Homo sapiens: one gene and its partners. The protein of the gene in region 1 interacts with the protein of each later gene in a pairwise test. Each region holds a gene or a part of one and is shown in the gene's direction. Other genes may lie near its edges.

Region 1 (4,055 bases):
GGAGGCTGGCGAGTATGCCGTTCACGTGCTGTGCAACAGCGAAGACATCCGCCTCAGCCCCTTCATGGCTGACATCCGTGACGCGCCCCAGGACTTCCACCCAGACAGGGTAAAGAGCAGGCTGTGATGGCCTAAGTCTCGCCCTGCTGCTCCTGCTTGGGGTCTGGTGGGGATGGCACTCTGTGTCCCTGGCCACCCTGCCTGGGTTGTAGCTCTGGCAGCCTGGACCTGGCCCCCTGACAGCTGGGTGGTCTCCCGCTAGGTGAAGGCACGTGGGCCTGGATTGGAGAAGACAGGTGTGGCCGTCAACAAGCCAGCAGAGTTCACAGTGGATGCCAAGCACGGTGGCAAGGCCCCACTTCGGGTCCAAGTCCAGGTAGAGCACCCACGGGTGTTGGGGGCAGGGCAGGTGTGGGCACCCAGGCCTGGGCACTGACCAGCAGGCCACCTGCTCCTATCTGCCTGACAGGACAATGAAGGCTGCCCTGTGGAGGCGTTGGTCAAGGACAACGGCAATGGCACTTACAGCTGCTCCTACGTGCCCAGGAAGCCGGTGAAGCACACAGCCATGGTGTCCTGGGGAGGCGTCAGCATCCCCAACAGCCCCTTCAGGGTGAGCCAACCTCCACCGGCCTTTAGTCCATCTCGATAGCATTCACGTAGCACACGATTCGTCCATTTCAAGTGGTTGTGGCACACCATCCTGACTCCCCTGTCCCACAGCTCCTGGTGACCACTAACCTGCTTTCTGCTGTGGCTTTGCCTATCCTGGACATGTTCTATAGATGGAACTGTGTGCCATGTGGCCTTTTGTGTCTGGCTTCTTTCGCTCACCACGAAGTTTTCCGTGTTTTCGTTCATGTTTGGCATGTCTTGGCACTTTGTTCCTTTATAATTATTTTGTTTATTTATTTATTTATTTGAGATGGAGTCTCACACTGTCGCCCAGGCTGGAGTGCAATGGCGCGATCTCGGCTCACTGCAGGCTCTTTCTCCCAGGTTCACACCATTGTCTTGCCTCAGCCTCCCGGGTAGCTGGGACTACAGGCGCCCGCCACCCCCCCGGCTAATTTTTTGTATTTTTAGTAGAGACAAGGTTTCACTGTGTTAGCCAGGATGGTGTCGATCTCCTGACCTTGTGATCTGCCCACCTCGGCCTCCCAAAGTGCTGGGATGACAGGCATGAGCCACCGCGCCCATCCTGGTTTTTTTTTTTTGAGCCGGAGTTTTGCTCTTATTGCCAGGCTGGAGTGCAATGACGTGATCTCAGCTCACTGCAACCTCTGCCTGCCAGATTCAAGCAATTCTCTCCTGCCTCAGCCTCCTGAGTAGCTGGGATTGCAGGCATACGCCACCATTCCCAGCTAATTTTGTATTTTTAGTAGAGACGGGGTTTCTCCATGTTGGTCAGACTGGTCTCAACCGCCTGACCCCAGGTGGTCCGCCCACCTTGGCCTTCCAAAGTGCTGGGATTACAGGCATGAGCCACCACGTCCGGCCGCTTCATTTATTTTTATGGCCGCATAATACTCCATTGTGTGGCCAGACCACATTCCATTTTTCCGTTCACTTGCTAACAGATATTGAGGATGAGCTTGCCTTTGGTGATCATGAACAGTGCTGTTAACAGTGAGTCCAGGTGTTTGCGTGGACATTTGCTTTCATTTCTCTTGGGTAGTTGCCTCGGAGTGAACCGGAGCATCACACAGTCCCTCTGTGGTCAACTGAGGAACTGCCAGACTCTTCCCAAGGCAGCTGGACCATTTTGTGTGCCTGCCAGTGTAGCTGAGGGAGCTTCTGAGTCTCCTCCAGGCTGCTCATGCCCTTGCCCTTGCCCCTGTGCCCTGCAGGTGAATGTGGGAGCTGGCAGCCACCCCAACAAGGTCAAAGTATACGGCCCCGGAGTAGCCAAGACAGGGCTCAAGGCCCACGAGCCCACCTACTTCACTGTGGACTGCGCCGAGGCTGGCCAGGGTAAGGCCTGGCTGTGGGTGGGAGGGCAGGTGGCTGGGGTGTCCCTGCGAGGTCTCAGCCTCCGCTCCTCTCCCCGCCGCAGGGGACGTCAGCATCGGCATCAAGTGTGCCCCTGGAGTGGTAGGCCCCGCCGAAGCTGACATCGACTTCGACATCATCCGCAATGACAATGACACCTTCACGGTCAAGTACACGCCCCGGGGGGCTGGCAGCTACACCATTATGGTCCTCTTTGCTGACCAGGTGGGTGCTGCGCTCCTGGCCGCTAAGATGTCATTGCGGATGACGTCTGCCCTCCTCTAAGGCCTTCTCCTCCCACTGCCTGCAGGCCACGCCCACCAGCCCCATCCGAGTCAAGGTGGAGCCCTCTCATGACGCCAGTAAGGTGAAGGCCGAGGGCCCTGGCCTCAGTCGCACTGGTGAGGACAGGTACCCCATGGCAGGTTGCGGGGCATCAAGGGTAGGAGGGCTTGGGGCAGGGTGCCCCTACATGGTCCCTGTGTGTTCCTCAGGTGTCGAGCTTGGCAAGCCCACCCACTTCACAGTAAATGCCAAAGCTGCTGGCAAAGGCAAGCTGGACGTCCAGTTCTCAGGACTCACCAAGGGGGATGCAGTGCGAGATGTGGACATCATCGACCACCATGACAACACCTACACAGTCAAGTACACGCCTGTCCAGCAGGTAGCCACACCCTCCACTACAGTCACCGAGTCCCCAGCCTCCTCATGCAGCAGCCTAGGGGACAGCTCCGAGGGACTTTCTGCCCACTCTCATTCCTTACCTGGGAGAGGACAGGCATGGAGGTCCAGGAGGGGGTTGGGGAGCAATTCTGGTGTCTCTAAATACCCCCTTCCCTTCTGCACCCTTCCCAGGGTCCAGTAGGCGTCAATGTCACTTATGGAGGGGATCCCATCCCTAAGAGCCCTTTCTCAGTGGCAGTATCTCCAAGCCTGGACCTCAGCAAGATCAAGGTGTCTGGCCTGGGAGAGAGTAAGTAGTTGGGGCCCTTGTCGCAAAGGCCTTTGTCACATCCAGGGATTGGCTGAGCTGGGTGTCATGTCTCTCTCCTTCCTTTCATCGTTTCCACAGAGGTGGACGTTGGCAAAGACCAGGAGTTCACAGTCAAATCAAAGGGTGCTGGTGGTCAAGGCAAAGTGGCATCCAAGATTGTGGGCCCCTCGGGTGCAGCGGTGCCCTGCAAGGTGGAGCCAGGCCTGGGGGCTGACAACAGTGTGGTGCGCTTCCTGCCCCGTGAGGAAGGGCCCTATGAGGTGGAGGTGACCTATGACGGCGTGCCCGTGCCTGGCAGCCCCTTTCCTCTGGAAGCTGTGGCCCCCACCAAGCCTAGCAAGGTAATTGGGGTATGGGAGGCCCTAAGGGTAGAACCCACTGTGCTCTCTGAGGGCCCCAAAGGTACCCCATCTTCTCCAGACCTGCCCTAAATCCTTTTTTTTTTTTTTTTTTCCTGAGACAGACTGTCAACCTTGACCCTGTTTAAGTGAGAGTAAAGGGGAGGAGGGAAATAGAAACCCACAAAAAGTCATCAGGGTTGAAGAATTTCTTTTTTTTTTTTTTCTTTCTTTTTTTTTTTTTTTTTTTTTTTTTTTTTTTTTGAGAAAGAGTCTCACTCTGTCGCCCAGGCTGGAGTGCAGTGGCGCGATATTGGCTCACGGCACCCTCCGCCTCCTGGCTTCAAGCAATACTCCTGCCTCAGCCTCCCAAGTAGCTGGGATTACAGGTGCCCGCCACCATGCCCAGCTAATTTTGGTAATTTTAGTAGAGACGAGATTTCACCATGTTGGCCAGGCTGTTCTCAAACTCCTGACCTCAGGTGATCCACCCACCTTGGCCTCCCAAAGGGCTGAGATTACAGGCGTGAGTGACCGCGCCCTGCCCTCCTTTTTGTCCTTATGACTGATGGATGGCCCATCTGGCAGGCAGCCTGGGCCCGCCCGTGTCCCTGTTTGGTGAGGGCAGGAAGCCAGGGCAAGGGGAGGCAGGTGGAAAGTCAAGCAGGAGGTCTGGGATCGGGGCATAGTGTGGCCTTGGCTCCTGACCCCTTCTTCCCTCAGGTGAAGGC
Region 2 (3,171 bases), on another chromosome or scaffold:
GGAAAGCAAAACTTTGTTCTCCTATTGCCAAAAGATGCTTTTCTGACATTAGAAAAACAACATAATTAGAAAATACAAAAAAAAAAATTTTTTTTTTTTTGACACGGAGTCTCGCTCTGTTGCCCAGGCTAGAGTGCAGTGGCGCGATCTCGGCTCACTGCAAGCTCCGCCTCCCAGGTTCATACCATTCTCCTGCCTCAGTCTCCCAAGTAGCTAGGACTACAGGTGCCCGCCACCACGCCCAGCTAATTTTTTGTATTTTTAGTAGAGATGGGGTTTCACTGTGTTAGCCAGGATGGTCTCCATTTCCTGACCTCGTGATCCCCCGCCTCGGCCTTCCAAAGTGCTGGGATTACAGGCGTGAGCCACTGCGCCCGGCCTGAAAATACAAATGTTAAAGCTTTTAAAATACTTTTATTAATTTTAGGAGTTAAGAAGTTTCCATTATTTTGCTCCAAACCAGAAGACTCTGTTCCCTGTATATAGAATAGGAGTAATATTTGAAAACAACTGGCTGATGTTTAAAACTGAAGATTGTCATGATTGTTTATCCTAATCCCAATGCTGAAGTAAGATTGTCTTGGAAATACTAAGTTGGGTAAGTATTTTTTAAAGGTTTATGTTGAGTGGTGAGAAAATACTAACAGAAAAAGATGGGAAAATTTTAAAAGTGCACTTTCAGATCAGCAGGGGAACTATGTTACCTCAGTCTCATGCTATTTTGAGGCTAATAATTCAGGAATTTCAGTAATTTGTGGCTAATTAAGTTTAGGTTTGAGGCAGTTTTCAAACAACAGTGAGTTACATTTGAAATTTGTTTTAATTATAAATTCAGAATTCTCAAAAAGCATATTTAATTTAAAATGTGCCTAGTTACAGTACTACTGTGATTGTCAATTATGCCTTATTATTTATTACATTGTTTCTGTAGGAAAGTGAATTCTGCATTTAAATTTCAGGGAACCAGTCAGAAGCATCTGGATTAGGCATTTAGTGATACAAGGATCCAGAATAACAAAAACTATGTACCAGCCACATTCACACAACAGGTGATACCCCTATAGGTTAATTATTCTCTAGATATTCTAAATTAAGAGACACAGAATACTTAGTCTTATGTGAGTCAAGAGCTCTATTCTGTCTTCACTACTGGGTGTCTACTGTTATAAACTGGAGAATATGTGTGGTTAAATGCCATGTTTTTCATTTTTAATTGATCTTTTTCTTATTGCTGTGGTTCTTTGCCTTTTTAGGATTTCTTGTAAAAACCTCAAAATGGTTATAAAGAGTATCACAGATGTGGTGTTATGGTTAGTGTGTACTTTGAAAGTAATGAATGTTTTTATGTAATTAAATATCTTTCTGCCAAAATTACCTACTTAGTGTTATATTTTTAAACTAATGAGTAGTCATTAAATATTCTATTTTTTAACACTAGAATTTGGTACTTAAAAGCATGAAGTCTGGAATCAAATCAACCTAAGATTCCAGCTCTGGCACTTTACTAACACCTAACCACTTCAAGATCCAGCTTATATATCTTTAAGATGAGGATAATAATGATTCCTACTTAATAGGGTTGTGACAATTAAATGGTATGATATTGCAAAGTTTTTAGGTCAGTGCCTGACATATAATGACTCTCAAAATTATTATTATTATCTGTTTACACACATTAATTATATCCTTTTCTGGATATTCTATATAGTTATTTTTTATAAATAATGTTTATTCTTACCATCAGTTGACCAGCTTATTCTTTCCTTTTCTCTTGAGATTTATAATTAATCACCTTCATTATATTCTAATGAAAACAGAGACATAAGTAATTGTCACACCACAAACAGTATGATTACTCAGGTGTATTCAAATTATTTGGCACCCCAGAGCTAAACTATCTAGAGCAGCTATAAATAAACATGTGAAAACTCTTAACCAAGTTACTTCTAGTTTGGAAGAATTAAATTGGCCTCCAGTTCTCAGGTAATTTGTTTAGAATATCATATAGAGTGTCAGCAATCATTTACTTATAATATTGATATTTAGAAATTGATTTTAAGCTAAATACTTTTTTAATTTTTTTGATTTCCACCTTTTAAGTTCAGGGGTACATGTGCAGGATGTGTAGATTTGTTACATAGGTAAGTGTGTGCCCTGATGGTTTGCTGCACAGATCATCACATCACCTAGGTATTGAGCCCAGCATCCACTAGCTGTTTTCCTGATGCTCTGCCTCCTCCCACCCCCACCCTCTGACAGGTCCCAGGGTATGTTATTCCCTTCCACGTGTTCTCATGATTCAGCTCCCACTTATAAGTGAGAACACATGGTGTTTGGTTTTTCTTGTTGTTGTTCCTGTGTTAGTTTGCTGAGGATAATGGCTTCCAGATCCATCCATGTCCCTGTAAAGGACATCATCTCATTCCTTTTTATAGCTGCATAATATTCCATGGTGTATAAGTACCTCATTTTCTTTATCCAGTCTGTCATTGATGGGCATTTAGGTTGATCCCATGTCTTTGCTATTGTGAACAGTGCTGCAGTGAACATACGCTTGCATGTATCTTTATAATAGAATGATTTACATTCCTTTGGGTATATACCCAGTAATGGGATTACTGGGTCAAGTGGTATTTCTGCCTCTACGTCTTTGAGGAATCACCACACTGTCTTCCACGATGGTTGAACTAATTTAATTTACACTCCTACCAACAGTGTAAAAGTGTTCCTTTTTCTCCACAACCTTGCCAGCATCTGTTATTTTTTGGCTTTTTAATAATAGCCATTCTGACTAGTATAAGATGGTATCTCGTTGTGGCTTTAGTTTGCATTTCTCTAATGATCAGTGATGTTGAGCTTTTTTTTCATATATTTCTTGGGCACATGTATTGTCTTCTTTCCAGAATTGTCTGTTTGTGTCTTTGCCCACTTCTTAATGGGGCTGTTTGTTTTTTCTTGTAAATTTGTTTAAGTTCCTTATCAAGGAACTACATGATTCTTATCAAAAAGGATTTTGGACAGATTTTATGGGCAGAGTCTTTAACTATTTGGGAGCTAAAGGTGTAAGAGAAGATAAAATGAAAAGAGCAGTGACATCGATGCCTTTCACTTCAGGGATGGTGGAACTTTTCAACTTTATAATAGTTGCTGGATATTAGACCTTTGTCAGAT
Region 3 (4,444 bases), on another chromosome or scaffold:
ACTAAAATTAGCCAGGTATGGTGGCATGCGCCTGTAATCCCAGCTACTCGGGAGGCTGAGGCAGGAGAATTGCTTGAACCCAGGAGGTGGAGGCTGCAGTGAGCCAAGATTGCACCACTGCACTCCAGCCTGGGCGATAGAGTGAGACTCTGTCTCAAAAAAAAAAAAGAAAAAAAAATTAAACTGTCTTGAGTACTAAATATTGGTGTGGAGAACATCCTGGATCTTTGCCAATTCTGCATCTTCGCAGGAGCCAAGGATATTGCAGAATTTGCTATTTACATCCCCTCTGCTGCTTGTGTAAGATGAGGAAACAACAATAGCAGACATAATTGCTGAGGTTGGGAGGGGGAGCTGAGCTAACAATAGGCAAAAGATGAAGGGAAGAGAGGATAATGGTGGCAGCTATAGGATTCCAATGGTGAATTGTGGCTACTTAAAAAAATCAGGATATAAAGCCTTACCTATTGTGGGATACCAACTAGCTCTCAGGATACCTCAGGCTAAAATGCAAGATTTAGATCCTCAAAACCTGGGTTCAAATCCTACTTTTCTACCTCTAGGTATGTGATTAGGTTAACAAACTTTCTTCTGCCTCCATTTCTACGTCTGTAAATAGCAATAATAGTAGTATGTATCTGCTTTTTTAAATTATCGTGAAGAAGTGCGTGGAAAGTGCATAGCATCACGCCTGACACTTTTCAATTATTCAATATTGGCTTATGATTGACAATATTTAATATTTGGGAGGAAATCCACACACATATAAGACAGACTTAAGGAAAACTTTTATTTTCTTCTTCACACTTTTCCGTTATTTTCCAATTTTCTAAAATGAGTATGCATTGCTATTAAAACCAAAAGGAGGGAAACTCACAAATTTCTGAACAATAGAAGTTTGACTGTTCCACTGTTTCCGGAATTTCCCGGAACATGTTGTTCAAGAAGGACGTGGGAGTGCATGCTGAAGCACAGATTGCTAGGTCTCGACCCGTAAATACTGGATAAAAATCTTTAAGAAATAATTCTGGTAATCTATACTTTTAATCAGCTCCACAGATGACTGTTATAATCGGGCACTGCTGGGACGTGTTGATTGAATGGGAAGTGAGCAGAGAGTGGGCGGGGAAGGCCTGGCGGGGAAGGCCTGGCGGGTTGCAGCGATCACGAGGCCTGCGCCTACAGTTCCCATATTACCCCGCGAAATCGCGACGAGCAAGCACGAACCCTGCCGGGAGTTGTAGTTTCTCTCGGCTAGGCCGCTGCCTATAAAGAACGCCGGAGATGGCCACAGAAAACTTCCCGCCCCACAATGCAAAGGTCAACGTTGACGCCATCTGGGGTGCGCCTGGAATCGAGCAGGCCGTTTCTGCCGCGTCCACCACAACCTCTGCTGTATCAGAGGGGGCCTTCGCCGCCGCCGCCCCCACCACCGCCCCTGCCGCCATCGCCACCTCCGCCGCTGCCGCCTTGGGGCCCTCCTCCTTCACCGCCCCCTTCACCACCTCTACACGTTCTAGGCCTTCTGTCCTGGAGAAGAAGCTATAGTCGTTCTCCCTTGTGGGCCCGGGGCGCAGCCATGGCGGACGGCGGCGGCGGCGGGGGAACTGGCGCGGTGGGCGGCGGCGGAACTAGCCAGGCCTCTGCCGGGGCAGCGACTGGCGCTACTGGGGCCAGCGGGGGCGGTGGCCCCATCAACCCGGCCTCGCTGCCTCCCGGCGACCCGCAGCTCATCGCTCTCATCGTGGAGCAGCTCAAGAGCCGGGGCCTTTTTGACAGCTTCCGCCGGGACTGCCTGGCCGACGTGGACACCAAGGTAGCTGCGGCCGCCTGGGCGTTGGGGAGCGGGGCTGCACGTGAGGCCGCCGGGTGGCAGCTTTGATTTTCGAAAGCCGAGAGCAAAACAAAAGATAGCTTAGAAATCTCAGCGGTGAGGTCTTACACCGCTTGGGGCAGTACGGAGAGCTTTCTGAGCGATGCACACGTGGGTTCCTGCCTGATACATTTACTACTAGTTGTGATTTTACCCAGTCCCTTCTCCGAACTTGGGGTTTCAATGTGGGTTTTAGAGCCTAGACCGTATCATTCCCAAGATGGAACTCCTCTGAGGCCCTTAATAACAAACTTCGAAACCAAGTAGATAAGCAAGCGTGCTTTAGAATTTCCACCTGTTCCGTACTCACCACTGAGAAGCTGGCATTAAACACAATGATTTGAACACACAGTCATCACCATTTTATAGCTGTTTATTCCTTTTCTCTAGCTCATTGTTTTGCAGACTAGTACGGCGTTGAATTAAGATAAATTGTAGAAACAGCACCCTTATTTTGCACTTCATCATTGATAAAAGGAGATTTGGTGCCTAGTTGAGATCCTAATGCCATTGGTCAGTCCCACCAGTAAAACGCTATTTCACTTTACCTACTCGTCAGGGTGGTTTGGATTCAATGAAATAATGGGTGTTAAGTATCAGACATACAGTAGTTGCTGGAATGTTCATTTTCTTCCTTTTCAAAACTTGTCTAGCCACGACTGTGGTTGTAGGTTAGGAGACCCTGTCACTGGACTCCTGCAGGGTAGTGATTTCTCCTACCAGAGCCTGTCATGGAAACATTTTGCTTACCTCACAGCAAGATTGTGAGCTTAGAATTAGACCTTAAGATAGGGAAAAACGTAGTCTGTTTATTCGTTGAACGTTTATTGGCCTCTAGTTGCCAAGCTGTGCGATTACAGGAATAAGTCACTACCCCATCCTCAAAACTTATAGTCTAGGTTAGAAAACTGACATGTAAATAAACCAGGTGGTAAATACGGATGTAGAGAGAGAAAGTGGTATACACTGTTCCTTCTCCAAGATGAAAAGCCCAACTAGAAGTCTGTCCTTGAAACAAAGTAATTTAATACATATACATCCCAGATCTGTATTGACAGAGCTTTCACCTTTCCTAGGACAAGTTCTCCATTCATATTTCTTATATTCCGTTAGGTTTTGTGTGTGATTTTAAAACAAAAGCGACTACAGTAGCCCGCCCCATCCAAGGTTTTGCTTTCTGCGGTTTCATTTACCCAATTGTTGCGGTATGGAAGTACTTGTGTTCAGGTAACCCCTATTTTACTTCATAATGGCCCTCAAAGACATTCATGCGTAGTGTATATAGGGTTCAGTACTACCTGAGGTTTCAGGCACCCACTGGGGATCTTGGAACGTATCCCCTGAGGGGGGAGGGGACTACCCTCTTGAGCGGCTGGTGAGGGAGAGTGGTTGGAACCTTCCCATGTACAGCTCCTTAGCTGTTCCTTCTGAGAATTCCAGGTTGTTTTAGTTCTTGAAGATAGTGTTTTTTCAGGCATATCTTATCTGAGACCTTTGTTGCTTCAGCCCAGTGGTTCTCAAAGCGTGGTGCTTGGATTAACATCAGCATCACCTGAGAACTTGTTAGAAATGCACATTTTGGGCCCCACCCCAGACTGCTGAAGTATTTAGGGGAAATTGAACAGATGTCTGTAATTTACTTTGCACTGTAATTTACTTTGAACTGATAAGTGAACAGGTGGAGGGGTTGGTAGTACAGTAAAACGTTATGAGTGGGCTCATGAGTTCCTTTGACTTCTTGAACTGAGATGATTCTGTATCGCCTGGGTTTGTTACGTGTTTTGGTGGTGATGTTCACTGTCCTTTGTCCTTTTTCGGTAAACAGTTCGTATCATCTCAAACCAGGTGCGTTATTTTGAGTAGACGGTATGGCATCAGGATTTATGCTTACAAGGGACAAAAATAATCCTAACTGCTTTATGCAAAGGGGAGAATCTATTGTCTTACGGAATCCAGGGAAGGATTGAACGAACAAACTCTCCCAGAGGGTGGTAGGCGTGCGTTTGGAACCAGATATTCCCCATTCGTTCTGTCTTTCATCTCTGTTGATATCTGTTTTACTGTTGGTTCAGAGTGGAGTCATCCATTTGGTTACTAGTATCTCTTGATTACATTTTACAGCTTCTTCCTCTAGAGAGAGGCTGTCAGCTCCAATCTGGGAAATCCCAGGGAATGTCTGCATTGTCTTAGCGTGGCTCAGGCACCCACTCCTGTGGCACCCTCTGCCCTACCCTTGTGAAGAGAGGAAGACAGTTACTAGAAAGAAGGCGTTACTAGGCAGATAGCACATGGTATCTGTGAATTTTACTCCTCTGCCCCCATTTCCTTGCCTTTCTCTTTTCCAGGTTTAGTGGAGTCTTTGAGTTTGCTCTCTCAACCTTTTGGAAGAGGCCAGTCATGGAATTGAGGCCTGCTGGTTCCTTTGTCAACTTCATTTCCCTGACTGTTAGCAAACTTTGCCGCAGTAATGCTGCATAGCAAACTGAATCTCAGCAGCTTATAACCAGCACTTGTTCACATGTTCATGGGGCGGCAGGTCTACCAAAGTTCAGCTGAGCTAGGAAGGCTTCA
Region 4 (4,301 bases), on another chromosome or scaffold:
TTCCAGCAAAGTGGTCCCAAATCTCCCTTGCAGATATTTACTGTTGGTTGCTCTGTGCTGGGTTCTGGACTGGACTGTGGAAGAGGCAGAAACAAAGAGAACCCTGTTTCCTGCCCTCTGGATGGTTTCGGGGGAAGTTGGGGGTCCCCGCAGATCTTGGGACATGGCAGGATTTGAACTGGCCCTTGAAGAATGGGGAGGATCTGAGCAGGACCTGGAGCCTAGAGAATAAACCAGAGAACAGAAGGGCTCAGGGTGGGGGGCAGAGGGTATAAAGGGCCTGGAAGTTTGGGCTTTCTCCTAAGTGACAGGAGCGTAGGCAAAGTTGTCTGAACAAGAGGTTACACGGTCTGGCGCAGTTCCCTGGGCACATGGCTGTTTCACCTATGGAGTGCCAGCCACCCCACTGCCAGGGAGGCTGTGGGTGAGAGGCATTTGGACACGTGTGAGTATCCAGGAAAGAGGTCAGGAGGCCGGGCACAGTGGCTCATGCCTGTAATCCCAGTGCTTTGGGAGGCCAAGGTGGATCTCTTAAGGCTAGGAATTTGAGATGAGCCTGGGCAACATAGCAAGACCCCATTTCTACAAAAAAAAAAATAAAAACATTAGACAGGTGTGGTAGTGCACACCTGTAGTCCCAGCTACTTGGGAGGCCGAGGTGGGAGGATCGCTTGAGTCCAGGAGTTGGGGGCTGTAGTGAGCTGTGATGGTGTCTAGCCTGAGTGACTGAGCGACACCTTGTCTCGAAGAAAGAAAGAAAGACGTTGGGGATGTTGATAAAGATTTTTTGAAATGTTTTATTTTGATATAATTCTAAATTTACAGAAAAGTTGGAAGAATAGTACAAAGAAATCCCCTATATCTTTTTACCCAGATTCACCAATTATTGACATTTTGTCCCACTGGCTTTTTCATCATCTTTCTTTTTTTTTGAGCCGGAGTCTCGCTCTGTCGCCCAGGCTGGAGTGCAGTGGCGCGATCTCAGCTCACTGCAAGCTCCACCTCCTGGGTTCACGCCATTCTCCTGCCTCAACCTCCCGAGTAGCTGGGACTACAGGCGCCCACCACCACGCCCGGCTAATTTTTTGTATTTTTTAGTAGAGACGGGGTTTCACCGTGTTAGCCAGGATGGTCTGGATCTCCTGACCTCGTGATCCGCCCGCCTCGGCCTCCCAAAGTGCTGGGATTACAGGTGTGAGCCACCACGCCCAGCCAGAAATTAATCATTGATAAGACTTATATATCGGTCAGGCATGGTGGCTCATGCCTGTAATTCCAGCCCTTTGGGAGGCCAAGGTAGGTGGATCACCTGAGGTCAGGAGTTTGAGACCAGCCTGGCCAACGTGGTGAAACCCCGTCTCTACTAAAAAATACAAAAATTAGCCGGGCATGGTGGCGGGCACCTGTAATTCCAGCTACTTGGGAGGCCGAGGCAGGTGGATCACCTGAGGTCAGGAGTTTGAGACCAGCCTGGCCAACGTGGTGAAACCCCGTCTCTACTAAAAAATACAAAAATTAGCCGGGCATGGTGGCAGGCACCTGTAATTCCAGCTACTTGGGAGGCTGAGGCAGAAGAATCGTTCGAACCCAGGAGGCAGAGGTTGCAGTGAGCTAAGATCGTGCTATTGCACTCTAGCCTGGGCGACAGAGTGAGACTCTGTCTGAAAAAAAAAAGACATACATAATCCACAGACCTTATTTAAATGTTATCAGTTGTCCTGATACTGTACTTCATAACTTCTTCTTTTTCTGGTCCCGGAATCCAATCGAGGACCACTTGCTGCATTCACCTTCTTGTCTGTGGTATCCTTTCATCTGGAAGAGGGCCTTGGCCTGCCGTTGTCTTTCCTGATCTTGACATTTTGGAAGACAACCAGCCTGTTATTTTGTAGAATGTTGTCAGTTTGCATTTGTCTGGTGTTCCCTGGTTGGATTCAGATGATGCATCTGGGGCAGGAATATGTAGGTAGAGATCGAGAATCACTCATATAAGCGAGAAAGTGGATACCAGAAGAGGTGGCGTTCCGGAGCAGAAGGTAGAGAGAGCACACGCTGGAGTCCAGGGCGCGGGGAGGCCCAGGGGTGTTTGGGAGCCCAGAGGAGTTGTTGCAGTGGCGGTGGATGAGGGCGTGAGAGGACAGGGCCTCTGTGTGGGCAGGGGCTGTTTGCAATATCAGGAAGAAGGTGGATTATGAGGAGAAGGGATGACTCCTTGAAGCCCGAGCTGGTTTAGTGAGCAGAAGTTCCATATATACCATCATTCCTGGGGTGCGTCTGTGGCACGGGAGCGGCCCGTGTGACCCTCTGGATGAAGGAGGTTTTGTACCTGTTGAGTTGGAAACGTACCTGGTTAGAGTCTTTCCCAAGGAAATCCAGAACCCCTGGAGGGTGGAGGCCTTGTTCTGGCCGCCCCTGTGTCCTCAGCACTCAGCACGGGGCCCAGCATCGGGCAAGTACCGCGGAGTGTTTGTCGAGTGAGTGCATGACAGAGGAAAGAGGTTCCCTGCAGGCCTCTCCTGCAGCCCGCTGGAGCTGGGTGGGCAGAGGTGGCTGTGCCTGTTGGGGACTGATGTGAGCATGTTTCTTTCCAGGCCTTGGATGTATGGGCCACTGGCGTCACGTTGTACTGCTTTGTCTATGGGAAGGTGAGTGCCAGGGATGCCAGCAGAGCTGGGGCGGGTCCAGTGAGGCGGGCACGGGCGACGGATGCAGGCTCTTCCTTTTTGTCCTTAAGTGGCTTTTGAAAGAGCCCACCTGGCTCAGAGAAGGCTGAGAGAGAAGAGGCTTTTTCTATCTTTCTCTGGTCCCCTGCGGAGCGATTCTCGCGAAGGAGTCGCAGGACAGCAGACACCTAAGGGGAGGTGCCGACGATGGTGTTGCCACCGCCCCAGCCAGAGTGCTCCCCGTCCCTCTGTCCCTTGACGCCATTCACTTATTGAGCCATGTGTTCACTCCCTTGCTCATTTATTCGACAAATTGTCCTTCACCCCTACCCTGGCTGAGGCTGGACCCTGGGGACACCCAACGCTGACGTATCGGTGATCCCTGCCCGCAGGTGTGCCTGCTCTGGTGACCACACTAAGGGGCAGGGGGGAATTTCAGTGAACATGTTCCCAAGCCCCAGGCCCTGGGAGTGGAGGCCTGGCCACAGGTGGCGGTAATGGTGGTGGGTGCACCCAGCCTGGCCTGGCCTGGCCGCGGGTGGCAGTAACGGCGGTGGATGCACCCAGCCTCATTGTTCCCTCAGCAACTCATTCATTCAGTCAACATTTGTTGAACATTTACAGTGTGAGTTGAGGTCCTTCTCATGTAATGGGAGCCCAGACCTGCCCCCTACCCCTGCCCCCACCAAGGGAGGGGGGTTGATCCCCTGGCACAGGTCGAGGCCCTGGACCCACATCCTTTGTCTGCCTCTCCACCCCACAGTGCCCATTCATCGACGATTTCATCCTGGCCCTCCACAGGAAGATCAAGAATGAGCCCGTGGTGTTTCCTGAGGAGTGAGTTGTCCACCCAGGGGAACAAGGGGGCTACCACCCGCTCCTGGTGTCTGAGTTTTAGCAGAGCTTTTGCCCTCTGAGGACCCCACCCCAGCCTGCAGATATGAAGGTGGCGGTGCTGTTCCCTGGGAGGGACCCCTGAATAGATGGACGGGAGGGACTCTGGAGCCAAGGGTCTCCGCAACGTCACTGTGTGGATGGGAACCCTGAGATCCAGGGTTGGCCAGGGATGACCACAGGCATCATTCACACCACTCCTTCACCGCAGGCCTGCCTGGGGTCAGTGGCGCCAGCCCCACCCAGCCCCTGGACTCAAGGGGAACTTCTCCTTCCCCCACTCAGGGTCAGGGAACTTCAAGATGCCAGTGCGTGCTCCCCATTTCACAGATGGAAAAGAGGATGCTCTGGAGGAGAGCGGTCAGGGGGCTGGGACTCAAGCCACTCTTCCTCCCCACTCTTCCCATTGTGACCGAGGTCTCTGAGCGTAGCAGGGACGTCGGGGAGGCCTCTTGCTCATGCATGGTTCGCCTCATGACGGCCACCGTGGCAGCCACAGCCTGAGCTCCCAGGCTCCTCTTTTCAGCAGTGGATTTCAGGAGTGAAATGGAGGCCGGGTGCGGTGGCTCACGCCTGTAATCCCAGCACTTTGGGAGGCTGAGGTGGGCAGATCACCTGAGGTTAGGAGTTAGAGACCAGCCTGGCCAACATGGTGAAACCCCATCTCTACTAAAAATACAAAAATTAGCCAGGCGTGGTGGCGCACATCTGTAGTCCCAGCTACTCGGGAGGCTGAAGCACGAG
Region 5 (4,301 bases), on another chromosome or scaffold:
TAGTTATGAGACCACCTCTCTAGTTAAAATACATAAAGTTTCTTAAGCTTTTCTAGGGGCAGGGTGATTGTAAAGTAGCATACCTGTCGTTTGTAAAGTAGCATACCTGTCGTGTGTAGTGGCCATTGGTGCTTTCATGCTTATTTTGACAGGAGACCTGTAACAACTCAGAATAGGTTTGCAAGAGAAAAACTGGTATTATCTCTTCCTAAAGGGAAATCATTTTCTTCTCTGGTAGATTTTGCAAATGATCTCATATTCACTAAACCTCTATTTGCCTGGTCTCAAAATGGATGTGTACTAAAAGCAGAACATTGCTAGCCCAAAGCTACATTTTCTTTAACTACCTTCTATAAACAGGCCTAACGTCTAGACCTTTTTGCACAAAGTTGTAGTCACAAAGTCAAGCCCCTTCTCCGTAATAAACACATTTAATTATATTAACATTTGTGTTGCTTTGTGGTTTTCAGAGTGCCTCCATCTGTATTTTTTTTATTTTGGGCACAAGGTGGACAGAGAGGTGGGCAGAGTGAATTTATCCTATTTTGTGGATGATGAAACAGGCACAGAGAGCATAAGTGATTTGTCCAAGTTTGTGTTGCCAATAAATAGTAGAGCTGCAAGGAGAACCTAGTTTCCTGAGGCCTAGTTTAATCTTTTCCACTAAACCATGTTGTAGAAAATACACCATAACTAAAACCATGTTTGTTATAGTGCCATACTTTTCTGTGTGTGTGTGTGTTTTGTTTTTTTGTTTGTTTGTTTTTTGAGACAGAGTTTTGCTCATTGCCCAGGTTGGAGTGCAGTGGTGTGATCTTGGCTCACCTCTGCCTCCTGGGTTCAAGCGATTCTCCTGCCTCAGCCTCCCAAGTAGCTGGGATACAGGTATGCGCCACCACGCCCGGCTAATTTTGTATTTTTAGTAGAGATGGGGTTTCTCCGTGTTGGTCAGGCTGGTCTTGAACTCGTGACCTCAGGTGATCTGCCCGCCTCAACCTCCCAAAGTGCTGGGATTACAGGTGTGAACCACCGTGTCCAGCCTTCTGTGTTTTTCAGTTGCAGATGCACACACTCCCCCCATGATAAATCTCTCTACCAAATTGAAGGACTTGTGTATTTTCTGTACTACATTTTATAGTGCTTAGGAGTGTCCTTGATACACACTTTTCATTTTAGAGGAAAAAGTGAGGGACCTGACGTTTATCTGTGATGACTATGACTATCGTTATGCTAGATACATTATGTCATTTAATCCTCATAACAGCTCTGAGTGACACCACTGTCCCACCCTCTTATTCCTCTTGAGGAATCTGAGCTTCAGACATCTTTTTTTTTTTTTCTTGAGACAGAGTCTTGCTCTGTCTCCCAGGCTGGAGTGCAATGGCACAATCACGGCTCACTGCAACCTCCACCTCCCAGGTTCAAGCGATTCTCCTGCTTCAGGCTCCAGAGTAGCTGGGATTACAGGTGCCTGCCACCACGCCCAGCTAATTTTTTTTTTTTTTAAGTAGAGATGGGGTTTTGCCATGTTGGCCAGGCTGGTCTCGAACTCCTGACCTCAGGTGATCCTCCCGCCTTGGCCTCCCAAAGTGCTGGGATTACAGGTGTGAGCCACCAGGCCTGGCCTGAGCTTCAGACATTAAGTGACTTCCCTATGTTCATGCAGTAAGTGACAGAATCAGGATTCAAACCCAGGTTCGTCTGACTCTACTAACTATTCCAAACAGTGAACCTCAAGTTGAGTTTAAAGACCACAGATAGAAGAGTCAGGTGAACCTGGAGGTATTAACTACTAACTCTCCCAAACAGTAAGCCTCAAGTAGAGTTTAAAGACCACAGATAGAAGTCAATACCTTGTTTGATATGTTATTGATACATTTCACTGTTAGCTCCTAAGAATACAATAATAAGATACAGTAACTTAAAACATTAAATTACCAAGGTTATGAGACAGGATATAGGAGGGAAAATAGAATTTTTTCTTCAGTAACAAGTTCCTTCCAAATAGTGGTGAGAAACTATTTTAATCCCTTTTATTGCTCATAGTCTGTAACTAATAAATGTTGTACTTAGTTTGGGACTTCTACATCAAGACAGTAAATAAGGTGTAATCATCATAGGGCCTCTACTTCTATTATAAACTGAAAAACTATTGAAGTTGGATCCAGGATCAGTGTTCAGACTTTGATGTTACCACCAAATGAACACAAGATACTAGAGGAGAGAGACCCTAGGATCAGGTCAAGCCCTGATCCCTCCATTGGCCAAGGACTTCAAGGCCATATCAATCTATAGGGATTAAAAGATGGTGCCATTGGCTCCTTAAAAAGCTTTGTAATTTCACCAGGCAATGACTGTCTCCAATGACTGCAAATTAGAGTTTTATTGGAATCTTTGCACAAGAGAATGGGCTATACCTTTTCTCACTCAGGCAAGACCTTTGATAGGTCATTTGCCCTTCTCAGGAAGCCAACTCATTCCTTTGGTACTTAAAAGGCAGGGCCAGTGAGCTAACAGTTACTGAATTAACTGCAGGTCAGGACAGTAGGCTCACCTGACTGGAGAAAGCAGGGCAAGGTCAGGGAGCCACGTGATCCTGACACTGCTGACAACATGGTTGCAATTTTCAGGAAGTTGTCTCTTTACACCGTTTTCCTCAAATTTTTTCCAAGATGAATGGGTTTTTTTTTTAAGAGACTAACCTTCACCTTGCAAGAGAATTATCTTCTGTGCAATTTCTTGGAAGCCAGCATGATTCTTTTCATTGTTCTTTAATGATCATTTGGATATTTTTACATCCACAGCAACTTTTACCACACTTGCTAAACCTGTTGTCGGTGTTTAATTTCTTCTTTATCTTGATGAACCAAACCAAGACTAGAGAACTATCAGTAGTAGAGATTACCTGTCATAAAACATGGAGAAAACCATGTACAGGAGAAATGTGATTAAGGAGCATAAGCCCTCTTTTTTTTGTTTTTGAGGCAGAGTCTTGCTCTGTTGCCCAGGCTGGAGTGCAGTGTAGCGATCTCTGCTCACTGCAAGCTCCGCCTCCTGGGTTCACGCCATTCTCCTGCCTCAGTCTCCCGTGTAGCTGGGACTACAAGCGCCCGCCACCACGCCCGGCTAATTTTTTCTGTTTTTTAGTAGAGACGGGGTTTTACAGTGTTAGCCAGGATGGTCTCAATCTCCTGACGTCGTGATCCACCCACCTCAGCCTCCCAAAGTGCTGGGATTACAGGCGTGAGCCACCGCGCCCGGCCTGCATAAGCCCTCTTTTCTGGTTCTGCTTAAGTTATTCATGCACTGAACATAAATAGGAAATGTTTGCTGGCCAATAATAGCGATAGGGTGATAGAACAGGCATGTTGACTGTGGGCAAGTCACAATCATAAAAGGAGAAAGTCACGCTTTTAGCTGACATGTTTAGCAGATGATAGAATATGTAAAAGAGGCCAGGCGCAGTGGTTCATGCCTATAATCCCAGCAGTTTGGGAGGCTGGGGCGGGCAGAACACATGAGGTCAGGAGTTCAAGACCAGCCTGGCCAAAGTGGCGAAACCCCGTCTCTACTAAATAACAAAAATTAGCCTGGCGTGATGGCGTGTGCCTGTAATCCCAGCTACTCGGGAGGCTGAGGCAGGAGAATCACTCGAACCCAGGAGGTAGAGGTTGCAGTGAGCCAAGATCATGCCACTGCACTCCAGCCTGGGCGAGAGAGTGAGACTGTGTCAAAAACAAAAAGATGATGTAAGAGACTCACTTCATGAAGCACATGCGCATCAATCACCTGGCCAGGGTACTCAGCAGACCAAAAAACAAGTAGACGCCCTGATTTTCAGGGGTCCCTTGGCCTTTTGAAAAACATTTTTTCAACCTGTAATTGATTTGACTTTCAACACTTAGCTGCAGTCCAATGCAGAAATCTTTAATGCACCTGTTTAGAATATGCTCTTCCTGAGGCTTAGCCGTGGATCCTTCGGCACTGGATGTTAGGGAAGGGGGTACGTTTCGGTAAACAATGACAGTGACTTCTGTTTGGAACCATAGTTTCTTTGTTGGAACGAAGCTCAACTCATATAAGGAGTTTGGAACCCCCTGCCGGACTTACAACCTCCAACTTCTCTCTAATGAGGCTCTTGGGAGCTGTACAAAAAGGTGAGGCTGGAGTTTGACTGTTGTCTTCTGTTGCAGGTTCTGGGCATTTGGAAAAGTTTCTCTTCGGGCTGTTAAGCAAGGCTAAAGAGGAGAGGAAAAAAATGTTAAAATGTGTGTTGTCTTCCTAGTTTTCCATTTGTCTGT
Region 6 (4,001 bases), on another chromosome or scaffold:
AAACTTTGAAAGCTATTTGCTTTGCTGCAGCCAAATACTAATTAATAATGCCCCAAACCTTGCTTAAGTTGCATCATTATTAAACAGGGAGAAAGATTTATGAACAAAGATTTAGACTTAATATATTGAAACATTTGGACAATGAAAGATTATCAAGACACCAGCTGGGTAAATCATGACATATCCATCCTTTCAGGTGATTTGTTCAAGGTAGTATTCCCTTATCTTCAGTATTTTTAGGGTTTGCAATGAAGGTCCAGAGGTTAGTTAATAGCTTCCTTAGAGTTCTTGTAGATTCAGTGGAGTTCTTAGGAACAATTAGTGTACCATAACATACTGTAACATCACAGAGAAATCAGATTTGAGGCTTGTTCTGCTGTGACAGCCTTGGGCAAGTTATTTAACCCCTCTTTGGCTGTTTACTCATCCATAAAATGGAGCTAATAGTGCATGTATCATAAGGTTGCTGTGAGGAGGAAATACAGTAATAAGTGCAAAGTGCTCAGCACATTGGTTGGACTCCCTATGAGTAGAGTTCATTCCAGGTTAAGTTTTGCTTTTACATTATTAAATATCTTTGTGCCTTAATTTCTTCATCAGCTCACAGTTCAGCTAATATTATTAGATGCTTCTTTGGGGGACAATAAAAACTTCTCTAGTAACTTCATAGGCATTTCAAACAGTTCAAATCAGAAAATAATATGAAAAGCACAGTACAAATTTATGATAGTATTAATTCTCATAGTAGCAATAATAGGAAATCTGTTTGTGTTGTATATGAGTTAATAACGATATGTTCAAATGGGTGGACTCAGTAGTTGATTCAGGTGGAGAGAAATAGATCCTTTCAGTTTTTTTTTTAAAGTGCCAATGTCTTTTCCTGTTTTAGGGCCTTTGCAGTTACTCCTTTTGTCTGGAATATTCTCCCCTATCCTTACCCCTTCTTATGTCTGTCCATCTAGTACAGCTGAAATGACAACATTGTAGAAAGGCCTTTCCTGACCATGTAGTCTGAATAGCTCTCAGTTTCTTTTAAAAATCACTTTAAAAAAAAAATCATAGCATTGATTAGTACTAGATTTCAATTTTGTTTTCTCTTTCCTTCTCTCCAACTAGAATGTAAACCCTGAAGAGCAGGGACCTTGCCTGTATTGTTTAATTTATTATTTTTTAAAATTTTTATCTGTTGTCACATACTCAAGTATGATCGCCTGTGGTGTTTATTTTTACTTTTCCTGCACCTAGATCCTAAGTGCCTGACAAATACTTGTGGAATGCTTGAATATAATGTAAAGTATGAAAAAATGATCCATAATTATACTTTCCAGAGATAAATTACCATTGTTGATAGTATAGTATATATTTTTTAACTTTATGTTGTGTGTGTGCTTACAGATACAGATGTCTATGATTATGCTTTTGAAATATGTATTCCATTGAGTCTAAAGATAAACATTTTTTACTATATGTATTTGAAATTGGTCTTATAATCAACGGTATGCTGTGGTTTAATTGGCAACATTTTTCTCTTTATGAGTTGCACATAAATATGTCTTAAAATCTATAGCACCTTAGATGTGATGAAATGTGGTATTTATTTGAAATAAAAATGAGATCAGGAAGTTCATCTCTTTTCCCCACCTAAAGATCTTGAGCATTTCCCTTGTCACTGGTTTTAGATCTGTCTTATTCTCAAGATATATGATTAAGGGTGTGTCATAACTTTTTCAATCAGTTCCTCTTGATGGCTATTTGGAGCTTTTCCAATTGTTTTCCTGTTATAAACAATGCTGTGCTGATTATCCTTGTATATATCTCTATGCACGTGAGTGAAATTTATTTAATTAGATTGGTGAATACACATATTCTCTGTAGTGTACAAGGGTACCTATTTCCCTATACCTTTATGAGTACTGAATCTTAGTAAATTTAAAAATTTTTATTAATCTAAGTGAAAAATATACTAATGTTTAATATAATTTCTTTAATTATGATAGAGATTGAAACCTCTTTTCCTGTTTATTAGCCGTTTTTATTTCCTTTTCTGTGATGTACTTGTGCATAGGATAGTAGGCTTTTAATTGGCTGGCATATTAGTCCTAATTAGAAACCTTTCCAGTTTGGAACCATGCATTATCCTATTAATTCTTGGGAACAACTTTTAGGCCTGCTACATCCTACTTTTGTGGAGGACAAGAGGGCTTTATAAGGACCCAAGATTTGCAGGGAGACAGAATTCAGAAATAACCAGAATTCTAGTGTCCTTTATAATGAAGGCCAAGAAGGGCTATAGTGTCAGTTTTTGAGCTGAATACTGGAACTTACATACTATGCTGTTAGTCTTTAAACTTTAAATGGTCTTCTTCTCAAGGCTTGTTGTTCTTTAATATGACTTGGTTATAGTATAGTAGTATTAGTTTAGTAGGTTTGAAATAGGATACAACTCTGGGACTTGAGTGAAGTCAATATTGGACTTAGAGATTAAATGTTTAGATTAATAGGGTGTTTTGCACATTGTTAAAATGTTATTAACATTTTTTAGTACCTTTTCTGTGTCAAACCGTATCAGTTTCAAACAAAACTATCAGATGATCTCTGCTTTTTAGGTTCTGCATGGTCTCTGGAGGAACAGATTTCAGTCCTTTGGTAAAAGTGAAGCTAGAATATACATGGAATATGGATAGCTCACAGGAAGGGTTTTAGTCTAGCATGGGAGTTTAAAGGAGGCTTCCTGGAGGAGACACGATTACCTAAACTAAGTCTCGAAGGATGAATATGAGTTAGCTGCAGTAGTAAGTAGTAAAAGGAACAACAGTGAAATGGACTACAAGTAGTAGAGTGTTCTTAGAATATGACATTTGAGGTGAAGACTGACTTATGGTGAGGTTGGAGTGACAAGAACCAAGTAATGAAAGGCCGTGAACACCCTGTATTTAATAGGTTAAGGGATCATTTTGAGCAATGATGGGGTCAAATTAGGGTTTTAGAGATCACTGCCCAAAGATTGATTTGGGGGCAAGATTGAAGGCCAGGACACATGTTGGGAAACAGTTCTAGTAATCCAGGTGAGAGAATTAAGGCTGTAGCTCAGTGGTAATAGCTTACTTGGAAAATTGTAGTCATTTTTCTTAGTTTATGTAACATTTTGTTCCCTATTGTTCAGAATCCCATTGAGATTACATTTCATTGAATGGGGTTTATTATTTTGCAGAGATAAGTTATGTTAATTATCCAATCGTCTTTCATTCAATTATGTCTGTAGGAAGTTTATACTTTTACAAATACCTGCTTAACTAGTATGGTGCTACGTGGAGATGATAAATAAGTGTTTTTCATCATTTTAAAAATTGAGAAATGTTAGCCCTTTTGATGTGCTTAGTGATTATCTTAGAGGGAAAGAATTTTAGAACATTTTGCCTTTGTGTAAAAGCAATGATTTGTTAGCTTAATTTATATATAATTAACTTATAGGAATTTATAATTTATATGTGCTAATTTCTTTTTCTTTTTTTTAAAAGGCTATTAGTGAAAGATGGTGGATCGCTTGGCAAACAGTGAAGCAAATACTAGACGTATAAGTATAGTGGAAAACTGTTTTGGAGCAGCTGGTCAACCTTTAACTATACCTGGACGAGTTCTTATTGGAGAAGGAGTATTGACTAAGTTGTGCAGGAAAAAGCCCAAAGCAAGGCAGTTTTTCTTGTTTAATGATATTCTTGTATATGGCAATATTGTCATCCAGAAGAAAAAATATAACAAACAACATATTATTCCCCTGGAAAATGTCACTATTGATTCCATCAAAGATGAGGGAGACTTAAGGAATGGATGGCTAATCAAGACACCAACTAAATCTTTTGCAGTTTATGCTGCCACTGCTACGGAGAAATCAGAATGGATGAATCATATAAATAAATGTGTTACTGATTTACTCTCCAAAAGTGGGAAGACACCCAGTAATGAACATGCTGCTGTCTGGGTTCCTGACTCTGAGGCAACTG
Region 7 (4,301 bases), on another chromosome or scaffold:
TTAAATATTGAACTAACATTTGAAATGCAAGGATAAAAATTTAAACAATTTTTGAATTTGGAATTGTATTTATAAAGCATCTCTTCATCATGATTTTAGCCTGAAGTTTTCATATAAATAGTAATATAAAATGTATGAAAGAGGGGTTATCATTTACATTTGATTAGAATTTGCAAAAAACTATTTTCATAAAACTTATTCTGTTTCTATCCTCTGTTTTACATGAAATTATTATGGTCATTTTTTTCATCAAAAAATATTTGCATTCTTTCATATATCTTTATGACCATAGAGATAACAAAATAAGTTACGACTACTTGGCCTAATGGAATGAAAATAATAATAAACATTTACTGAGTGAATGTTTTGTTCTTGGCACCGTGCTTAAAAATTAAACCCTTTACATATACTAACTCCTTTAATTACCTTATAATTTTAGTATGTAGATGACATTATTCCTTTTTTTTTGAGACAGGGTCTCGCTCTGACATCCAGGCTGGAGTGCAGTGGAGCAAGCACAGCTCAGTGCAGCCTCAACCTCCCAGGCTCAAGCAATCCTCCCACCTCAGCCTTTCAAGTAGCTAGGACTACAGTCGTGAGTCATGAGGCCCAGCTAATTTTTTACATTTTTTTAGAGATGAGGTCTCCCTGTGTTCCCCAGGCTGGTCTTGAATTCCTGGGCTCAAGTGATCCTGTAGCCTTGGCCTCTCAAAGCACTGGGATTAGCCATGCATAAGCATGAGCCGCTGTGCCTGGCCTGACATTATTCTTATAAATGAGGAATTTAAAAATTCATATAAGAGAAGCATCTTGTAAAGATACAATTTTTTTTTTTTTTTTTTTTGGAGATGGAGCCTCTCACTGTCGCCCGGGCTAGAGTGCAGTGGCGAGATCTCAGCTCACTGCAACCTCCACCTCCCAAGTTCAAGCGATTCTCCTGCCTCAGCCTCCCAAGCAGCTGGGATTACACGTGCCTGCCACCACGCCCGGCTAATTTTTTGTACTTTTTGTAGAGACGGGGTTTCACTATGTTGGCCAGGCTGGTCTCAAACTTCTGACTTCGTGATCCACCCGCCTCGGCCTCCTGGGATTACAGGCATGAGCCACCACGCCTGGCCCAAAAAATGTTATTTAACTGATCTGAAACTTAAACATGTTTGTTTAACACCAACATATGTGATTCTGAACCACGCATACTATGCTGCTTATTCACAATAGCAACGACATGGAATCAACCTAAATGCCCATCAACAGTAGCCTGGATAAGGAAAATGTGGTGCATATACACCATGGACTACTGTGCAGCCATAAAAATAAACAAGATCATGTCCTTTGCAGGAACATGGATGGAGCTAGAGGCCATTATCCTTAGCAAACTAACACAGGAACAGAAAACCAAATACTGCATGTTCTCACTTATAAATGGGAGCTAAATAATGAGAACACATGGACACATAGAGGGGAAGAGCAGATTCTGGGGCCTTCTAGAGGGTGGAGGGTGGGAGGAGGGAGAGGATCAGGGAAAATAGCTAATGAGTACTAGGCTTAGTACCTGGGTGACGAAATAATCTGTACAACAAACCCCCATGACACGAGTTTACCTGTTTACCTATGTAACCAGTACATGTACCCTTGAACTTAAAAATTAAAAAAAAAAAATTCATTTGTTAAGGTTTTAAATTTTATAGTATTAAGTTTATTATTTTGATTTTGGTTTTTGATTTTGATACTTTATGCTATATGGTCCTATTTACATGTTGATCTTTGTGACAGGTATTTTAACAATGGACTTAAAGAGCCTGTGGATCCTAATATGAGAAATTATAAGTACAGTAGGGGTCACCTCTGGGATGTGTGACATCAGTTGGTAACCTCAAAGTGAAACTGGAGTTTAGGGTGAAATAGGGCATAGAGTGGTGGGAAGTTGACCAAATTGTAGCCCTTCCTTTTGATTCAGTGTATTTAAGGATCCTTGTCAGAATGGAGTCCTTTTGGCTATAAGGAGAAGATCCAGACCTGGGACATGACTAATTAGAATCACAGTGTCTTCATTTTTGAAAACTTTTCCTTCCCCATTTGAAACTAGACCATTTTATAATTAGTAATTGGTACGTTAATAGTGCAAAAGATATTCAAACTGCACAGTATTTTTTGGTATTTTTTATTATTTCATGTACAAAATTCAGAAGGTACAGAAGGGTATACACTAAGGGTCTTTTTCCCCAGAGACAGCCACTGGTACCAATTTTCTTTGTTACCATCTATTTTCTTCCAGATATAATTTACACACACATGCATTCTTTTTAGCAGTCCCATATAAAGGCAGTTGCTATACACACGGTACTGAGCCTTGAGGTTTTTCACTTAACAGTATATCATGGAGATTATTTCATGTCTGTATATTGTGAATTTCCTTATTCATTTTTATAGCTGCACAGTACTCTGTTATAAAGGTATACCATAATTTATTTAGCCAAACCTAAATAAATCTAACTTACTTACATTGTTTCAGTCTTACTTGTAAGAACAGTGCTACAGGGAATAATAGGCAAGTCATTTTGTACATAAAGATGTGCATTTGGTATCTGTGCAGGATAAATTGTTAAATAAGGGGTTGCTGTGTCAGTTTGCGCATTTATAACTTTGACAGCAGGTGCTGAATATCCCCCCATAAAGGCTGTATGCTCCCACTAACAATATAGGAGAGTTTATATTAGCAAATTGCTCAATCTTGTTGAAGCTTTAACTTTCATTTCCCTTCTTATCAGTGAGGTTGAGCATAGTTTCATGTGCTAGGAACTCATTTGTATTTTCTTTCCCAATACACTTTTTAAATTCTGGGTTTGGTATAACTACTTAAGGTTTAACTTTTTTTTTTTTTTTTTTTTTTTTGAGACGGAGCCTCCCTCTGTCATCCAGGCTGGAGTACGGTGGCACGATCTCGGCTCACTGCAATCTCCACCTCCCGGGTTCAAGCGATTCTCCTGCCTCAGCCTCCTGAGTAGCTGGGATTACAAGCACACGCTAATTTTTGTATTTTTAGTAGAGACAAGGTTTCACCATGCTGGTCAGGCTGTTCTCGAACTCCTGACCTCGTGGCCTGTCCGCCTTGGCCTCCCAAAGTGCTGGGATTACAGGCGTGAGCCACCGCGCCCAGCCAGGTTTAACATTTTTGAAGCTGTTCTCTGAAGATACTTATGGCAAGACTAGACATAATATAGAAGTTAATATTACAAGCTCTGGAGTCTCAGGTTTATTTCTTGGCTTTGCCGCTTGTAACACCTTAGGCAACTTACATGTGTTAAGTCAGATAAAGCATATGAAAGCACAGTGCCTAGCACATAAGAGCACAAGAATGTTAGCTATTATTAGTGTGCCTGGTGCGTGCTAATAATAACTGACATTATTAGCTATTATATGTTAGTTAACTATGGTAACTCTAGTTATTATATATAGTTAACTTTGTTCCATAAATGCTTTATTTGTAGTATAATTATAATTATGTAAAAATACTAATTTTTTATTAGCAATAAAAATGAAGTATGCCAAAATATTAATTGTAATTAATACCAGTTAAGTAACTGGTGCCAGGAGAATTTTGAGTAATTTGTGTTAATTATTTTTAATGTCTAATTTTTTTGTAATGGAAATATGTTTTATAATAGAAAAATATGGTAGACATTGTTGTGAAATGATTTTTGTTAAATACACCTCCCCTCTTTTTTCATTACAGACAGAGAGTGCATGGGCTGAAGAATACTCTGAAAAGAAGAAAGGGTCTCACAAGCGCTCAGCATCTTGGGGCAGTACAGATCAACTTAAGGAGGTCAGAAAAATGGTTCTAAGATAGTGGGTGTGGAAATATGATCCTTTTGTTGGCTATTTCCTTGATATTATGGGCAGCAAGGATTTGTCGTTTTCCATTGATTTCTTTTTTCTTTTTGGCTTCTGAAATAACAAAAACAATTATTGTGTTGATTTAATAAAGATTTCAATAGGGATATTTATATATCACTTACCTGATTATGTATGTTTGTCTTTTTTTAGGAGAATTCATACCTGTCTATTAACATCAGATTTAAAAATTGTAACAATACAACAAATTCACATTTATTCTTTTTTTTTTTTTTTTGGGGTGTGCATGTGTGTGTGTGAGACGGAGTCTCGCTCTGTTGCCCAGGCTGGAGTGCAGTGGTGCGATCTTGGCTCACTGCAGGCTCTGCCTCCCAGGCTCAAGCAATTCTCGTGCCTCAGCCTCCCAAGTACCTGGGACTGCAGGTGTATGCCATCATGGCCAGCTA

The links.
Region 2: the proteins of FLNA (region 1) and PHOSPHO2 interact in binary tests that used the Homo sapiens proteins (3 or more experiments, as listed by UniProt).
Region 3: the proteins of FLNA (region 1) and BOD1 interact in binary tests that used the Homo sapiens proteins (3 or more experiments, as listed by UniProt).
Region 4: the proteins of FLNA (region 1) and CAMKK1 interact in binary tests that used the Homo sapiens proteins (3 or more experiments, as listed by UniProt).
Region 5: the proteins of FLNA (region 1) and MTNAP1 interact in binary tests that used the Homo sapiens proteins (3 or more experiments, as listed by UniProt).
Region 6: the proteins of FLNA (region 1) and PLEKHF2 interact in binary tests that used the Homo sapiens proteins (3 or more experiments, as listed by UniProt).
Region 7: the proteins of FLNA (region 1) and FAM117B interact in binary tests that used the Homo sapiens proteins (3 or more experiments, as listed by UniProt).

The regions. Positions count from the first base shown.
Region 1 is NC_000023.11:154,360,580-154,364,634, reverse strand, and holds part of FLNA (filamin-A), read left to right. Parts: coding exon 1-109; intron 110-262; coding exon 263-376; intron 377-469; coding exon 470-613; intron 614-1,850; coding exon 1,851-1,974; intron 1,975-2,056; coding exon 2,057-2,217; intron 2,218-2,302; coding exon 2,303-2,393; intron 2,394-2,486; coding exon 2,487-2,656; intron 2,657-2,847; coding exon 2,848-2,965; intron 2,966-3,064; coding exon 3,065-3,327; intron 3,328-4,047; coding exon 4,048-4,055. UniProt on the Homo sapiens protein: Promotes orthogonal branching of actin filaments and links actin filaments to membrane glycoproteins. Anchors various transmembrane proteins to the actin cytoskeleton and serves as a scaffold for a wide range of cytoplasmic signaling proteins.
Region 2 is NC_000002.12:169,696,934-169,700,104, forward strand, and holds part of PHOSPHO2 (pyridoxal phosphate phosphatase PHOSPHO2), read left to right. Parts: intron 1-427; 5' UTR 428-598; intron 599-931; exon of another isoform or gene 932-1,049; intron 1,050-3,171. UniProt on the Homo sapiens protein: Phosphatase that has high activity toward pyridoxal 5'-phosphate (PLP).
Region 3 is NC_000005.10:173,613,572-173,618,015, reverse strand, and holds the start of BOD1 (biorientation of chromosomes in cell division protein 1), read left to right. Parts: upstream 1-1,365; 5' UTR 1,366-1,579; coding exon 1,580-1,816; intron 1,817-4,444. UniProt on the Homo sapiens protein: Required for proper chromosome biorientation through the detection or correction of syntelic attachments in mitotic spindles.
Region 4 is NC_000017.11:3,871,753-3,876,053, reverse strand, and holds part of CAMKK1 (calcium/calmodulin-dependent protein kinase kinase 1), read left to right. Parts: intron 1-2,591; coding exon 2,592-2,645; intron 2,646-3,426; coding exon 3,427-3,500; intron 3,501-4,301. UniProt on the Homo sapiens protein: Calcium/calmodulin-dependent protein kinase that belongs to a proposed calcium-triggered signaling cascade involved in a number of cellular processes. Phosphorylates CAMK1, CAMK1D, CAMK1G and CAMK4. Involved in regulating cell apoptosis.
Region 5 is NC_000017.11:73,238,195-73,242,495, forward strand, and holds part of MTNAP1 (mitochondrial nucleoid-associated protein 1), read left to right. Parts: exon of another isoform or gene 1-444; intron 445-3,906; exon of another isoform or gene 3,907-4,049; coding exon 4,050-4,157; exon of another isoform or gene 4,158-4,228; coding exon of another isoform or gene 4,229-4,238; intron 4,239-4,301. Other genes in the region: CPSF4L (putative cleavage and polyadenylation specificity factor subunit 4-like protein), read right to left, coding at 4,229-4,238. UniProt on the Homo sapiens protein: Critical regulator of mitochondrial DNA (mtDNA) abundance. Binds dsDNA throughout the mitochondrial genome without sequence specificity and controls mtDNA copy number by promoting its replication.
Region 6 is NC_000008.11:95,150,513-95,154,513, forward strand, and holds part of PLEKHF2 (pleckstrin homology domain-containing family F member 2), read left to right. Parts: intron 1-3,518; 5' UTR 3,519-3,532; coding exon 3,533-4,001. UniProt on the Homo sapiens protein: May play a role in early endosome fusion upstream of RAB5, hence regulating receptor trafficking and fluid-phase transport. Enhances cellular sensitivity to TNF-induced apoptosis.
Region 7 is NC_000002.12:202,721,184-202,725,484, forward strand, and holds part of FAM117B (protein FAM117B), read left to right. Parts: intron 1-3,733; coding exon 3,734-3,826; intron 3,827-4,301.